Regions from separate parts of the Homo sapiens genome. Here region 2 is linked to region 1. A link means that fine-mapping ties the variant in region 1 to the expression of a gene that starts in the linked region. Tissue or cell type: whole blood. Region 1 holds a variant in brackets; the other region holds the start of a gene. All regions are shown on one strand. Distances are from middle to middle.

Region 1 (8,260 bases):
TGTTTTTTCCCGCATGTATATTTCTTTGCAGGATGAATTGTAAAATTGCTTCTCTTTCCAGCTTAGCTTGACACTGCCTGAACGATGTGTTAAAAACAAAATCTATAAATAGTTGTATAGTAGACAGGAACACTTGTGAAATGTAAATCTAGATTACGATGTATATTTGAATTAGGCTCATCCCAATAAAATTTGTATTCATAAAACTTTATTATAATCTGGTGTAAGGTAGAATTTGAATTTACTGTGTTAAGAATTTGCTTCTGAATGGTCAACTGTTCAATTTTCTTTTTTTTTTTTGTTATTTTGTTTTTTTAAGATGGAGTTTCGCTCTTGTTGCCCAGGCTGGAGTGTGGTGGTGCAATCTCAGCTCACTGCAACCTCTACCTCCTGGGTTCAAGTGATTCTCCTGCCTCCGCCTCCTGAGTAGCTGTGATTACAAGAGTCCACCACCATACCCAGCTAATTTTTTTGTAGTTTTTTGTAGTAGAGATGGCGTTTCACCATGGTGGCCAGGCTGGTCTCGAACTGCTGACCTCAGGTGATCTGCCCACCTCTGCCTCCCAAAGTGTTGGGATTACAGGCATGAGCCACCATGCCCGGCCTGGTCAACTAATCTTTATGGGAATAAAGAATAGGGGGCAAATAAGAGTAACTCATCAGCATTCTGTACCCACTGAAAAATACAGGTTTTGTTGATGAAATGGCTAAATGGGGCTGTAAAGTTTATTGTGTATGTGTTCTTTTTTTGAGAGGGATTGGGTGGAGGGCTAGAGTGGAGGATTTTGTTTACAGAAACATGTGGAATGCCACTTGATGTAAATGTTTGGGGGATTCTTAGGGTATGCTGGAGGTGCAGTTAGCCTAATGGAAATCTTTGGCAGAAATAAAACTTGTTAAAATATACTCCAGAAAATGAAGAATTTGTCAGGTAAATTGGTTAATTCATAGTACTAAATTTACAACCCCGAATTTGAAGTTAAAACATAAAATGATAGTGAAGAATACTGTGTGATGCCCTTTGGAAAGTGCAGTAGTTGAGAAAACTGGCAATACCAGCAGGAATCGTTAGTTTTACTTATTGTGCCTTTTTCCTTGTAATGTTATCGGGGAAAAACAGGTTTCCATATTTCTTTTTTTTTTTTGGAGACAGAGTCAGCCAGACGGGAGCGCAGTGGTGCAATCTTGGCTCACTGCAACCTCTGCCTCCTGGTTCAAGCGATTCTGCTGCCTCAGCCTCCCAAGTAGCTGGGATTACAGGCACCCACCCAAGCTAATTTTTGTATTTTTAGTAGAGATGGGGTTTCACCATGTTGGCCAGGCTGGTCTTCAACTCCTGACCTCAAGTGATCCACCCGCCTCGGCCTCCCAAAGTGCTGGGACTGCAGGTGTGAGCCACTGCGCCTGGCCAGTTTCTGTTTTTTTGTTGTTGCTGTTTTTTGAGATGGAGTCTCACTCTGTCGCCCAGGCCAGAGTGCAGTGGCACGGTCTTGGCTCACTGCAACCTCCGCTTCTCGGATTCAAGCGATTCTCCTGCCTCAGCCTCCTGAGTAGCTGGGACTACAGGTGCACGCTACCACGCCTGGCTCATTTTTATTTTTTATTTTTTTATTTTTTAGTAGAGACGGGGTTTCACCATATTAGCCAGGCTGGTCTCGAACTCCTGACCTCATGATCCACCCGCCTCGGCCTCCCAGAGTGCTAGGATTACAGGCGTGAGCCACCGCTCCTGGCCCTCCGTATTTTTTTAATGCAGCATTACAGGGCGGAGTAGAAAGGAGAACTTAGATATAGAGGTTTAAAGGTATATATTGGGTAAAGCTTTCTTTATGCATAATATTACATGTATTTTACCATGTAATTGGATGGCTTGGGTTATGGGATTAATCCCTGCGTTTGTGATTACTTTGTTACTAAGATCGATTTATTCAGATAACCTTGATGTAGGGAGAGATCAGAAATGGCAGTATATTTAATCAAGCACCCTTGAAACCATCTCAGTATAAAAGACCTGGGGGGACTAGTTTTAGAGTTCAGTGGTTGAGAAATTGTATCTGAGAGAGTAGGAATGTAAAACTTGGACCTACAAATTTGCCTTTATTTAACTTTGCAGCCTCCAACTGGTACAGATACTATGGTCAAAGCTGGAGTTAGCACTAACATAAGTACCAAGCACCAGTGTATTACTGCTATGAAAGAATATGAAAGCAAGTCACTAGAGGTCAGTAAAATACAATACAGAATGTCAGTCTAACCTTTTGATTTTATTGGAATGCAGCTTTTAAAAATGGTTTTGATTTTCTTTAGGATAGAGTGGTTCAGTTTGGGTTTATGTAAAAAATTAACATTAACCAAATTATTTTTAAAAATCAAGTATTATTTATAGATATCTACTTGTTTAGGCAGGGATAATATTCAGGGGTATGTGAAGGTCTAGCACCCCTAATGGTCTTTTTTTTTTTTTGAGATGGGCTTTTTTGCCCAGGCTGGAATGCAGTGACACAATCACAGCTCACTGCAGTCTCAGCTTCCCAGGCTTCATGTCCTTAGCCTCCGAAGTAGGTGGGACCACTGGCATGTGCCCCACGCCCAGCTAATTTTTAAAAATTTTTTTGTAGAGGTGAGGTCTCACTATGTTGCTCAGGCCGGTCTCAGACTCCTGAGCTCAAGCGATTTTTCTTCCTCAGCCTCCCAATGTGCTGGGATAACAGGCATGAGCCACTGAGCCCAGTCTAATCATCTGTTCTGATTGGATGTTGCTTCTGTTACACTGGGCAATGTGTATGCATGCATATGAAGGTGTTTTTAGTAAAATTATGCAAAGTACAGCTTAATAAAAGTTGGTTTTTTTTTGTTTTTTTTGTTTGTTTGTTTTTGAGACAGCATCTCACTCCGTCACCCAGTCTGGTGTGCAGTGGCACATCTTGGCTCACTACAACCTCCACCTCCTAGGTTCAAGCAATTCTCGTGCCTCAGCCTCCCTAGTAGCTTGGATTACAGGTGTGGGCCACCACACACAGCTAATTTTTTTTTTTTTTTTGAGACGAGTCTTGCTCTGTTGCCTAGGCTGGAGTGCAGTGGCGTGATCTCAGCTCACTACAATCTCTGCCTCCTGGATTTAAGCAGTCTCCTGCCTCAGCCTCCTGAGTAGCTGGGATTGCAGCTGCACGCCACTATGCCCAGCTAATTTTTGTATTTTTAGTAGAGATGGGATTTTGCTACGTTGGCCGGGCTGTTCTTGAACCCTGGCCTTGTGATCCGTCCACCTCAGCCTCCCAAAGTGCTGGGATTACAGGCATGAGCTGCAGCACCCAGGCACATTATGTACTTTTTAATGGCTGTCTTTGAACATTGAGATAGTCATCCATGTTGTTGCATGAAGTTAGTTTGTTCATTCTTATTGCTTATGTAGTAGGTTGTTGTACATTTTGATAGTCATTCATGATTATAGTGATTGCTTCTTTCTACATACCAAACTATGCTTACTTTATTGGGCTGTGCCAGGAACATCCGGACTTGAGACAAAATTGATAAACTTTATTTTCTAAATTTTTTGCCCCACAGAATCTACATATGTTAATTCACTATAATTTTTATTTTTATTTTATTTTTATATTTTAGGGCTGGGGAGAGTTAGGATTATTTTATGACATTTTACCAAAAGAGTGTATTGTTTGTGAAA[G/T]AAAACTGAGATTAAGATATTGACTCTTTGGCTTGTAGTTTTATGATAATTATGGTATGGATTTTAGTGTCTATTGGAAATGTTTTTCTGTAATGATATAATGTCATTCCTTAGTTTTCTCTTTTTTAGTTATGGTTCCTATGTGAACATAGAACTTGAATACTAAATTCAAGTATTTAGCCTCCTAAATAATTATTTTTAGCTGCATGTTAAGATTAGAAATATGTTTTCCCTCCCTTCAGGAACTTCGTTTAGAGGATTATCAGGCTAACAGGAAGGGCCCACAGAACCAGGTGGGAGCAGGTACCACAACTGGCTTGTTTGGGTCTTCTCCAGCCACTTCCAGCGCAACAGGACTCTTCAGCTCCTCCACCACTAATTCAGGCTTTGCATATGGTCAGAACAAAACTGCCTTTGGAACTAGTAAGCACTTGATATCATGTTAGATTATACTGAGGAGAGACAGATAACTAAAACTAAAACATAATTGCCATTTTGGGATAAGTGCTATGGAGAAAAATAATAATTCAGGGATACCATAGGAATAGGGAGGAATGCCTGGATGTATGTGGGGAAAGGGAGAAAGACAGTTTAAGATGAAGACGACTAAGGAATGCTTCAGAGGAGAAGGTGATGTTTGAGCAGTGACGTATCTGAAGAAGATGAAGGAGCAAGTTGTACAGATTTCTGGGGGAAGAACATTCCAGCTAGTGGAAACTGAGTCTAAAAACTCTGAGTTTTTGCCATTTGAAGAGAGGGCAAGGGAAAATACTGGGGGATATAGGGGCCATATTTTATACGACTTTGTAGGCCAATATCAAGACTTGAATTTTTATTTGATTTAGGAAATCCTGAAAGTTGTTTTGAAAGAGAAGTCATGTGATTGTGAGTGAAGGATGATTCTGAAGTCTCCTATATTGACAGTAGATTGTAAGAGTAGAAACAAATTACTTAGAAAGCTATTATCAACATAAGAGGTGTTAGTGTCTTGGACAAGGATGGAAAAGAGGCCAAGTGTGGTGGCTCACGCCTGCAGTCCTAGCACTTTGGGAGGCCAAGGCAGGTGGGTTGCTTGAGGTCAGGAGTTCAAGACTAGCCTGGCCAACATGGTAAAACCCTGCCTCTACTAAAAATATGAAAATTAGCCAGGCGTGGTGACAAGCACCTGTAATCCCAACTACTTGGGAGGCTGAGGCAGGAGAATCGCTTGAACCTGGGAGGCAGAGGTTGCAGTGATCTGAGATCACACCATTGCACTCCAGCCTGGGTGACAGCAAGACTCCATCTCTAAATAAAAAGGACGGAAAAGAAAAAAGATGAGGTTCTGGACCCAGTTTGATTATAGAACTGATGGAATTTGCCGATGCATTGGTTTAATGTGGGATGTGAAAGAGGAGTTAAAGATGATGATTACTTGACAAAAATACTACTTTTGCAAAAGTAATGCACATATGTGATACAAAGTTCACAAAATACAGAAAACTAAATAACCAGAGGTTATATACTTGCCTTATACACTTTCCCCAGCCACCAGTTTGCCTCTGTAGAGAAAAGCAAAAATTATAGCTTTTCATAGCCTTCTAAAGAGATGTACATACACACACACACACACACACACACACAAATACGTATTTATCTAAGTTATATTTAACCTACTTTTTCTTTTCTTTTCTTTTCTTTTCTTGAGACAGGGTTTTAGGGTCTTACTCCCGTCACTCATGCTGGAGTGCAGTGATGTGATCAGGGCTCACTACAGCCCTGATTTCCTGGGCTCAGGTGATTCTCCTACCTCAGCCACCCTACAGGCATGTGCCACCACACCCGACTAATTTTATTTTATTTTTTTGAGACGGAGTCTCACTGTTGCCCAAGCTGGAGTGCAGTGCAACCTCCAATTCCCAGGTTCAAGCGATTCTTCTGCCTCAGCCTCCCAAGGAGTTGGGATTACAGGCACCCGCCACCATGCCTGGCCAATTTTTTATATTTTTAATAGAGTTGGGGTTTCACCATGTTGGCCAGGCTGGTCTCGAACCCCTGACCTCAGGCGATTAACCAGCCTCGGCCTCCCAAAGCGCTGGGATTATAGGCGTGAGCCATGGTGCCAGCCCTAATTGTTTTTTTTTTTTTTGAGATGGAGTTTCGCTCTGTCACCCAGGCTGGAGTGCAGTGGTGTGATCTCGGCTCACTGCATCCTCCACCTCCTGGGTTCAAGCGATTCTCTGCCTCAGCATCTGAAGTAGCTGGGATTACAGATGCCCACCACCATGCCTGGCTGATTTTTTTGTATTTTTAGTACAGATGGGGTTTTACCGTCTTGGCCAGGCTGATCTGAACTCCAGACCTTATGATCCACCCGCCTCGGCCTCTCAAAGTGCTGGGATTACAGGCATGAGCCACCATGGCTGGCCGTCCAGCCCTAATTTTTAGCAGGGACGGGGTTTCACCATATTGGCCATGCTGGTCTCGAACTCCTGATCTCAGGTGATCACCCGTCTCAGCCTCCCAGTGTGAACCACCATGTCCAGCCTAACGTACTTTTCAATCTTGATATTCCATGATTTAGTTTAGTATGCTTTTTTTTTTTTTTTTTTTTTTGAGACAGAATCCCACTTTGTTGACCAGGCTGGAGTGCAGTGGAGCAATCATAGCTCACTGCAGCCTTGAACTCTTGGGCCCAAGTAATATTCCCACCATTCTGCCTGGCTAATGTTTCATAATTTTTTCTGTTTTTTTGGTGGGGGTTGGAGGACACTGTCTAGCTCTGTCACCCAGGCTGTCGTGCAGTGGCTCCATCACAGCTCCCCGCTGCCTCAAACTCCCAGGCTCAAGCCATATACCCACCTCGGTCTCCCAAGTAGCTAAGACCACAGGCAAGTGCCATTAGCCTGACTAATTTTTAAAATTTTTTTGTAGAGATGGGGTCCCATTGTGTTGCCTAGGCTGTTCAGGAACTCCTGTCCTCAAGTGATCCTCCTGCCTTGGCCTCCCAAAATGTTGTTATTACAGGTGTGAGCCACTGTGCCTGGCCCATATTCATTATTGAATATTACATATCAGACTCTGGGCTGGATATATTCATGTAAAGAAGAAGCCTTTGTTCTCATTAACCTAGACTAGCAAGGTTAAAATACACATGCTGACTTCTAGTGTATTATCTTGTAAAACAGAAGGAAGCTGTGGACTTACAAGGGAAGATCATTTAGCCTAGTTAAGCTTCTTGGGGTAAGGATGTTATTACAGAAGTTAAAGTTTAAATCTAGAGTTAAGTGAAGGATGGAAAACGAAAAGATGATCAAGTAGTGAATGAAGGGTAGTAGATAACATAAAGACTATTACAACAACTGGATAATGGAAGGTTTTGTATTTTTGGGTGTTTACATTTTTTTTATTATTTCTTTTTTCTTTTTTTTTTCTTTTTCCTAAAAGGTACAACTGGATTTGGAACAAATCCAGGTGGTCTCTTTGGCCAACAGAATCAGCAGACTACCAGCCTCTTCAGCAAACCATTTGGCCAGGCTACAACCACCCAGAACACTGGCTTTTCCTTTGGTAATACCAGCACCATAGGACAGCCAAGCACCAACACCATGGTAAGGAAACAGACCCTTACTTACCTCCATGTCTTATTTTTAGAGTTAAGTAATGAGGATTCTAATCATGTCAAACTAGCAAATTCTACCTGTACTGCAAATCTTAAGAGTTGAGGGTATTTAATGAAGGGAAGAGAACAAAGTTTTTTTTTTTTTTTTTGAGATGGAGTCTCGCTCTGTCACCCAGGCTGTAGTGCAGTGGCCCAGTCTCAGCTCACTGCAAGCTCCGCCTCCCAGGTTCATGCCATTCTCCTGCCTCAGCCTCCCGAGTAGCTGGGACTACAGGTGTCCACCACCATGTCCAGCTAATTTTTTGTGTTTTTAGTACAGATGGGGTTTCACCGTGTTTGCCAGGATGGTCTCGATCTCCTGACCTCGTGATCCGCCCACCTCGGCCTCCCAAAGTGCTGGGATTATAGGCATGAGCCACCGTGCCCGGCCAAGAACAAAGTCTTAGAATAATTAAGACCTAGATTCTAGCCTGGGCTCTACTCTTTACTTGTTGAGATGCTATTGAGGCGATCACTTATCCTTTCTGAAAGTATTTTTCTCATTACTAAGTAGGAACTACTTAGTGGGCTGGACTTGGCCCTCTTAAAGCTATACCTTGGAAAATTGACTACAGCCATTCTATAGGGTATAGGAGAAAATACTTATTCATTACTGACTATATTTCAGAATATAGCCAACAACAGGAACTAAGGGAACGTTCACCTAGTTCCCTTGGGAATCATACAAAGAAGTTTTTTTGTTTTTTTTTTTTAAAGGGAGACCTACGACTTAGAGCCATACTGTGTCCAAAGAAAAGGTCCTCATGGTCATTACTAGTTTATTTCTAGGGACATTTTTTAGGGAAGTATGAAATTAAAGAAGGAAGTGATGTATGAGTAATTGATCAGGACTTGGAATTTACCTCGTCTTAAAATTAGAGATACTTTTACTGATTAAAAAACAAGTATGGGCTGGGCACAGTAGCTTATGCCTGTAA
Region 2 (8,000 bases), 100 kb after region 1:
AGAAAGCAGAGTGGGTCAGCTCTGTTGTCTGGAACTTCCATTTAACTTAGATGCCTCAGGATAGGGGTTACTCAGCTGGAATCCCCTCCACTACTGACTCACTATGTGAACCTGAGTGAGTCACAAAACATAGTTGGACTTCCAGCAAAGAACACCTGACCTGGTTTCCTTACCAGAGGAATGTTTCAGAAAGTGAGTATGCTATAGAAATGGTTAGCTCTTAGCAGTGTTCGGAATTGTGGGCCAGGAGTGGTGGCTCACACCTGTAATCCCAGCACTTTGGGAGACCAAGGTGGGAGGATCGTTTGAGGCCAGGAGTTCAAGACCACCCCAGGCTACATGACAAGACTCTGTCTCTAAAAAAAAATAAAATTAGTTGGGCATGGTGGTGTGTGTGCATAGTCCCAGCTACTCAAGAGGCCTAAGCAAGAGGATCGCTTGAGCCTAGGAGCTGAAGGCTGCAGCGAGCCATGATTGTGCCACTGCACTCCAGCCTGGGCAACAGAGCAAGAAAAAAAAGGTTCTCAATCAAAGGTTTATCATAGAAGCCATGTTGTGCATAAAAGAGAATATCAACTTCCAGTTCAAGATAAGGGTGATGAACAATCTCTTCTTTTTTTTTTTTTTTTTTGAGACAGAGTCTCGCTCTGTCCCCCAGGCTGGAGTGCAGTGGGGCACGATCTGCAAGCTCCACCTCCCGGGTTCATGCCATTCTCCTTCCTCAGCCTCCCAAGTAGCTAGGACCACAGGCACCCGCCACCATGCCCGACTAATTTTTTTTTGTATTTTCAGTAGAGACGGGGTTTCACCGTGTTAGCCAGGATGGTCTCGATCTCCTGACCTCGTGATAAGCCTGCCTTGGCCTCCCAAAGTGCTGGGATTACAGACGTGAGCCACCGCGCCAGGCCTGAACAATCTCTTCCACATCCCAAAATCCCGTTGAAATAGTAAAAAATGTTTTAATTTCAAAAAAAATTCTCAAAAACATAAAACAGGAACCAGTTACCTCAACATTCGATAGATCTGTGGAATCTACAACATTCAAATAACTTATTTTCTCAACAGAACCCAAAGTTAACAGAGGTCTGGAGAATTAAATATTGGAATAATTAAGCAAAGGCCTGCAGAGTATCTGCTCTTTTTAGATGTTTCATCTTTAGCTCAGTTTTGTTAATTTGTATTTCCAGAAAATTGTTCCAGATTTTTTGTTATTCAAATAACCAGTCCTTAGACGTATTAATCAATTTTACTGGAGTTCTGTATAATCTTAATTTCTGCTTTAAATGTTCATTTCTTAGGCTTTCCTAAGGATTTGTTAAACCTTGTATTGGTTGGGCACGATGGCTCACGCCTGTAATCCCAGCACCTCGGGAGGCTGAGGAGGGAGAATCCCTTGAGCCCAGGAGTTTAAGACCAGCCTAGGCAACATAGGGAGACCTTGTCTCTTAAAAAATGAACAAAAATTAGCTGGGTGGTGTGCACCTTTAGTTCCAGCTATTCAGGAGGCTGAGGTGGCAGGATGGCTGTAGGGTATTTTGGTAGTTGTTCTTTAACAAGTTAAGGACAGTTCCCCTCTACTAGCTTGAATAAGTGAATGTTGGATTTCAATTTGAAATGATGTGAAACGCTTGTGTGTTAGGAAGGTGGTTGGAGATAAGCAGAGTACCTGGGAGAGGGGACGGGTGGAGAAAGTGCAGGGAATCACTGGCATATCCACGATGCCCAAAGTCATGGCTATGGATGTGATTGCCAGGGAAGTATGTGCTGCTGTTGGTCAGGCAACTGGTCAGCTTGAACAAAAATAATCAAAACTCTGTGCATGATAAATACCTGTGACCTGAGGATAGCCTGGCTACCTTACTGGGACCACAGTGTAAATATTGTTGATGACCTGCTGTACCTTAGGCACCGTGCTAGACAGTGCCTTGCACTATCAGGTTATCTCATTTAAATCCTTGCAGTTTTCAAGATGAGTACTGTTAATCCCATTACCAGATTGAGAGAACAGAAACCCAGAGAGTTTAAATATCTTACCCAAGTGAGAGCGCTCATAAGACAGGGCCGAAAGTGACTGAATGCTTGCCCTCTTCTCCCACACTGCCCACAGTGTTTGGGCAAGGTGAAAAAACAGGCTCAGATGGGAATGACTGCAGGGAGTCTGAGGAGAGGATGTGGGCTCCATCTTCTGCTCCACTGGGTCATCTGGAGTGGCCTGAGGCTCAGCACTACTCCCACCAGGAGGGAAGGGCTTGCTTGACCCAAAGTGCCTAGCCTGGAGTGTCTAGTCCCGCACTGCAAGGAGAGCTGCAGGTCTAAGGCAAACCTCCACCTCCAGAATTCAGGCAATGGTGGCTAAGATGAGAGGACAGTTATCCATCCACTGACCCTGGCCCCTCACACTCTTAAGCCCTGGTCTTCCACATACCCTGACCCAGCATACCTGTACTCTCCAACACCCGAGGATGGGCCTGAGCTGAGTCTGTGTGCTGCTTTACAGAGTTTGAATAATTCAAGCCCCAGAGGCCCGAGGTATCAGTTTCCGTTGCTCTGTTGTCATAGGCACGGTGTAATTAAGCTAATGAAAGGGCAGAGAGGGAGGGGCTGTGGTCCTGTGCCTCGGACGACTCTGGGCTGATCAAGGGAGGAGTCCCTGGTCCCTGTTCTGCTGAGAGAGCAGCAGGCCCATCTAGAGTCCAGGTGTGGGGAATGGAAGAAGGAAGGAATGAGGGATGAAACAGAAGTAGGAGAAAGGGAGAGAGAGTGGAAAGAGGCAGGCAGGGGATGATCAGAGTCAGGGAGGCAGAGAGACCAAGAAAGTTACAGACGGAAAGAGAAGGAAGCAGAAACAGAGTGAAAGACAAAGCAGGTGGGGAGCATAGGAAAGGGCAGAGGCAGAGGCCAGAAGAGGCAAGGACCAGCAGAGAAGAAGAAAGACCAAGTACTAAAATCCAGGGGCAGGCACAAATTGGAGGGTCAGAAGACTGGAGGGGCTGCAGGGCTCGCTGGAGGGTGGCTGGACCCACCAGAGATCTGTCTTACTTCTGACTTCTAGGTACTGTCCACACCATCCTTGCCAGCTGGGCCTAATTTTGCCCTAGGTCTGGCCAGGAGGCCTCACATCCAGAGACCTGCCCCCGCTCTTGCAGTGCCAGGGCCATGGGGCTCCGGAGCCACCACCTCAGCCTGGGCCTTCTGCTTCTGTTTCTACTCCCTGCAGGTATGAAGCTCAGTACACCAGCCCTGGCCTCTCCTGGTGGTGCTACTATTCCTGTTCTCCCAAAATCCCTTTCCATGTAGTCTCTCTTGTGTTTCTCCTCAGTACCTGTTCTGAGAACAAGCTCTCTATTTGGGGAGTGTGGAGGAGAGGGGTGCTGAAGTGCGTGAGAGGAGACTTGCCTGGCTAGGGTGGAAACAGTGAGCGGGGAGCTTCCAGAGACAGGGCTGGGAAAATCAGAGGGGCCAGATGTTGAAGGGCCTGCCGGCCAGGCCAGGTCTTTCTCCTGCAGATGACGGGGAGCACTGAAAGGTTTCAGCAGCATACTAGCCTGGTCAGATGTGCATGCTTAAAAGCGTGGTCCTGGGGCATGGGAGGGGTAGAAGAAGGTGAGCCTTTGGGGAAAGGGAGACAGTGAAGGGAGGGCCCTGACCTGGAGGGGAGAGGGTAGACTCAAGACGATGTTTCGCAAAATCTGGAGGATTTGAATGATCTGACAGGATCTGGAGATTAACTGGATTCCCCGAGGAGGAGGCAGCAGAGGGAGAAGGGAGGGATAATTCCCAGATTTCCAACTAAGGTCACTGTTGAAGCTGAGGGCATGCTATTTGCTGAGATAGGGAACATGGGATAGGAAGCAGGTTTCAGAGCATGGAGGGAGGAAGCGAGTTCATATTTTGGACCCTCAGAGTTGAAGGTGCCTGTGGGAAACTCAGGAGTGGACTGTACTCTATTGGGGTCTGGAGCTCAGGAGAAAAATCTGGGATGAAGAAAAAGATGGGAGCCAAGGACAGGATTCATGGGAACAATGTTTAGGTCAGGGATTGAGGAAAATTTGTGTCAGTAAAGCCTGGGGAAGTGTGTTTTCAGAGTGAGGGAGTGTTCCATCGCATCAGAAGTTTTGAAGAAACCAGCTCGAGATGGAGAAGTGGAAACAGGTTTGAGAGATACTGGAGGGGGCAGAGCAGTGGGGTTTAGAATCCCTGGGTGAAAGTCTGGACTCTTGTGGCTTATTTGGGCCCCTCTAGCATTTGTGGAGAGGCAGGCAGACTCCAGGTCCTTGAAAAGGGGAGGGTGGAGGAGAAATTTGTCAGCCTGGCGCCAGAAGATAGTACCAGTTCACTCCATGGCCTTTACCTCATGTGTCCCTGCAGGCAGGCCAGGGAGGAACTAGAGCCACAGCTAGAGCAAGAGAAGGCAGACACCAGGAGGACACTCATAAGGACAGGGCCCCAGCCCTGGGAGTGGAGGGTGTGAGCAGAGGCCCTGGGACTAGGGCCTGGGATGGACAACCCTCCTTACTGACCCTCCAGAGTGCCTGGGAGCTGAGGGCCGGCTGGCTCTCAAGCTGTTCCGTGACCTCTTTGCCAACTACACAAGTGCCCTGAGACCTGTGGCAGACACAGACCAGACTCTGAATGTGACCCTGGAGGTGACACTGTCCCAGATCATCGACATGGTGCGTTGTGGTGGTGGTACAGCTGTGGAGTCTTACCTGTCACAGTGTCAAGAAATGAAGGGGTGAGAGACTGGGATTATTCTCCATGGAATTTCTTTTCTGTAAATGTTAATATTAACAAAGGTAGCAGTTACAAACTGTTGGGTACTGACTGTTGGGTACTGAGTATTGGGTGCCTACCTCGTGCCCAATATTTTGTTCACCTGAACTTACTGAATCCCTGCTAAGCAGGGATTCTCACCCCATATTCCTGCTGAGGAAACAGGGGCAGAAAAGAGAAGAGCCCACTAAGGTCACATGGCAAGGTCAGGTCTGGGTGGGAACTGGACGGTATGGACAAGTCAGGTTTGTGGGTGCTGACCAGAGCCCTGCAGGGGAGTGTGCACAGACAGGGCAGGATATGCATATACATGTCCACATCTCTGCCATTCCCTGCCCCCACTAGGATGAACGGAACCAGGTGCTGACCCTGTATCTGTGGATACGGCAGGAGTGGACAGATGCCTACCTACGATGGGACCCCAATGCCTATGGTGGCCTGGATGCCATCCGCATCCCCAGCAGTCTTGTGTGGCGGCCAGACATCGTACTCTATAACAAGTACTGCCTATCTGGGCCCCTCCTCTCTCTTACCCCTCTCTAGACTTGCCCTTAGCTGTGGGGGTGTAGTGATCCCCTCTCCCTACCACATAACCTGGTTGCCACGCTGCCCTGGAAGCTTTTCCCCAGGACCCTTCTAAGCTGCCAGGCACTCAGCCCCTCCATGGCACCCCCACTTTAGGCTATCCCAGGCCAGCCCAGGCTGAACGTCTCCTCGGAACCTACTGTGTGGTCCAGGGCAGTTGTCTGAATCACAAGGGCCTCTCTAGGGCACACTTTTAGCTCTAAGTCTCTCAGGGCTCCCCGAAGAGCCTGTGTAAGGGTCTCTTTCCTCCAGGACATAGCCCTCTGGAACACTGCTTTATGTCTCCTTGACCAGTTCCGTGTCTCCCAGCCAGCACATAGCTCTGCATATTTTCTCTGGGGCCCTTCTACAAGTTTTGCAGATGTCCCCCAAGGGAAGTCACTGTGTGTCCCGGAGCTACCTCTGGGTTCTGCAGAGGCCTTTTTATACATCCTCTGGCTACGTCTGTGTCCCTTCTGGGCCCTTCAGGCACCACCCCTTCCAGGCCTCGAAAGGCAGCGGGTCTCTCTAGGTGCACTCCACCCTCTGTGTTGCTTTGTTCTGAAAACAAGAATCAAATTAACGAAAAAAAAACAAGCACAAGTTTATTTATTTATTTGAGACACAGTCTCGCTCTGTCGCCCAGGCTGGAGTGCAGTGGCGCTATCTCGGCTCACTGCAAGCTCCGCCTCCCGGGTTCACGCAATTCTCCTGCCTCAACCTCCCAAATAACTGGGACTGCAGGCACCCGCCACCACGCCCAGCTAGTTTTTTGTATTTTTAGTACAGACGAGGTTTCACCGTGTTAGCCAGGGTGGTCTCGATCTCCTGACCTCGTGATCCGCCCACCTCGGCCTCCCAAAGTGCTGGGATCACAGGCGTGAGCCACCGCACCCAGCCACAAGCAGAAGTTTATTAATCTGCTGTACCCATCATGGGAGAGGCCTTAGTTCAAAAGTATTTCTCTCTGAAGGCAGTGACTTAGGGGCCTTGCTTAAATAGAAATTCAAGAAAGAGCCAGTAAGTTATAAATAGTGGCAAGACAAAGGACAGCCACCTTTAAAAGGCGGGAAAACGTGGAAAGAGGGTAAAATCTGTTTCCAGATTCCTCTGGCACCTACTGGTGCCCTTTGGATAAGCAAGTGCTGACTCCAGCAAGGAAGGGCTGATGTCCTGCCATCAGGCCAGCAGACGCTGGGGCCAGGTGCTCCCCTGCGTCGTGAGTGTCTCGAACTTAACGAGCCTCAATATTCTGGGGAGAAGTTTTGGTTTCTTTCAGCCCCTGGGGGTCTGCCCTGGGCTCCCGGCCTCCGGGGCTGCTCCTCAGGCTGGACAGCCTAGGTGAGCCCTGCCCCGCCTGCCCCCAGAGCCGACGCGCAGCCTCCAGGTTCCGCCAGCACCAACGTGGTCCTGCGCCACGATGGCGCCGTGCGCTGGGACGCGCCGGCCATCACGCGCAGCTCGTGCCGCGTGGATGTAGCAGCCTTCCCGTTCGACGCCCAGCACTGCGGCCTGACGTTCGGCTCCTGGACTCACGGCGGGCACCAACTGGATGTGCGGCCGCGCGGCGCTGCAGCCAGCCTGGCGGACTTCGTGGAGAACGTGGAGTGGCGCGTGCTGGGCATGCCGGCGCGGCGGCGCGTGCTCACCTACGGCTGCTGCTCCGAGCCCTACCCCGACGTCACCTTCACGCTGCTGCTGCGCCGCCGCGCCGCCGCCTACGTGTGCAACCTGCTGCTGCCCTGCGTGCTCATCTCGCTGCTTGCGCCGCTCGCCTTCCACCTGCCTGCCGACTCAGGCGAGAAGGTGTCGCTGGGCGTCACCGTGCTGCTGGCGCTCACCGTCTTCCAGTTGCTGCTGGCCGAGAGCATGCCACCGGCCGAGAGCGTGCCGCTCATCGGTGAGCAGCGGGGGCGCGGGGGGACCTGACGATGCGCTGGGGTCCCCCCAGGGCGGGGCCGCGACAGGGCCTGGGTCTGCGGAACGGCCCCACTGCAGAAAGTGAGAGGGGGGCGTCCTGGGAACGTGCCCTCATTTTAAGACTGAGGGGAAAGGATTAGCTCCTTCCAGGGAGAACACCCCTCACGACTTGGCCCTTGATGATGGAACATCAGTATCCCCAGATCCTAATGATAGGCAAAATCTGTCGACTGCTTGCTGTGTGCCAGGCACTCCCCTAAGCACTTGACCTTTATTAACTCAGGTAAGCATCACCACAAACCTAGGAAGTAGGTCCTCTGGGTATCCCATTTGTACAAAAAGGATTCGTATCTTGCCCCAGCTCATGCCCGTCGTTATTTGAGAGCGGGACTGTCCTGGATTGTGTATGAGTGCAGCCTCCAGCAGTGACGGGAGCAATTAGAGAGCAGTAGCTTCCGATGACCCACGTGTAGGAATGAAGGATGGGGAGAACTCGGCCCTTACCTCCTTCCTGCTTCCATCCATGGGGCTTGGAGGGTCTGGAGAGCTTCATGGTGGGCTTATTTCCATTTGTGCAGAGGTGGCTGGGAAGCTCAGGAACCACAGGCTTTTGTTTTGAGTCAATTGGCTTTCTCTCTCTCTTGCAGGGAAGTACTACATGGCCACTATGACCATGGTCACATTCTCAACAGCACTCACCATCCTTATCATGAACCTGCATTACTGTGGTCCCAGTGTCCGCC

What was found. PIP is the estimated chance that this variant, and not a neighbour inherited with it, causes the effect.
Region 2: it holds the start of CHRNA10, and the variant in region 1 is fine-mapped to the expression of CHRNA10 in whole blood (TOPMed, PIP 0.95).

The regions. Positions count from the first base shown.
Region 1 is chr11:3,767,593-3,775,852 of GRCh38, reverse strand. It overlaps NUP98 (nucleoporin 98 and 96 precursor), which reads left to right. Exons shown (of 33, transcript NM_016320.5): 6 at 2,114-2,221; 7 at 3,925-4,105; 8 at 7,109-7,272. Among named protein-coding and RNA genes, the nearest start is that of NUP98, 26 kb to the left of the region's middle. The variant G/T (reference allele first, on the strand shown) is at 3,683.
Region 2 is chr11:3,666,469-3,674,468 of GRCh38, reverse strand. CHRNA10 (cholinergic receptor nicotinic alpha 10 subunit) reads left to right here and starts at 3,085. Exons shown (of 5, transcript NM_020402.4): 1 at 3,085-3,217; 2 at 4,528-4,673; 3 at 5,119-5,273; 4 at 6,705-7,237; 5 at 7,905-8,000. The coding sequence starts at 3,157.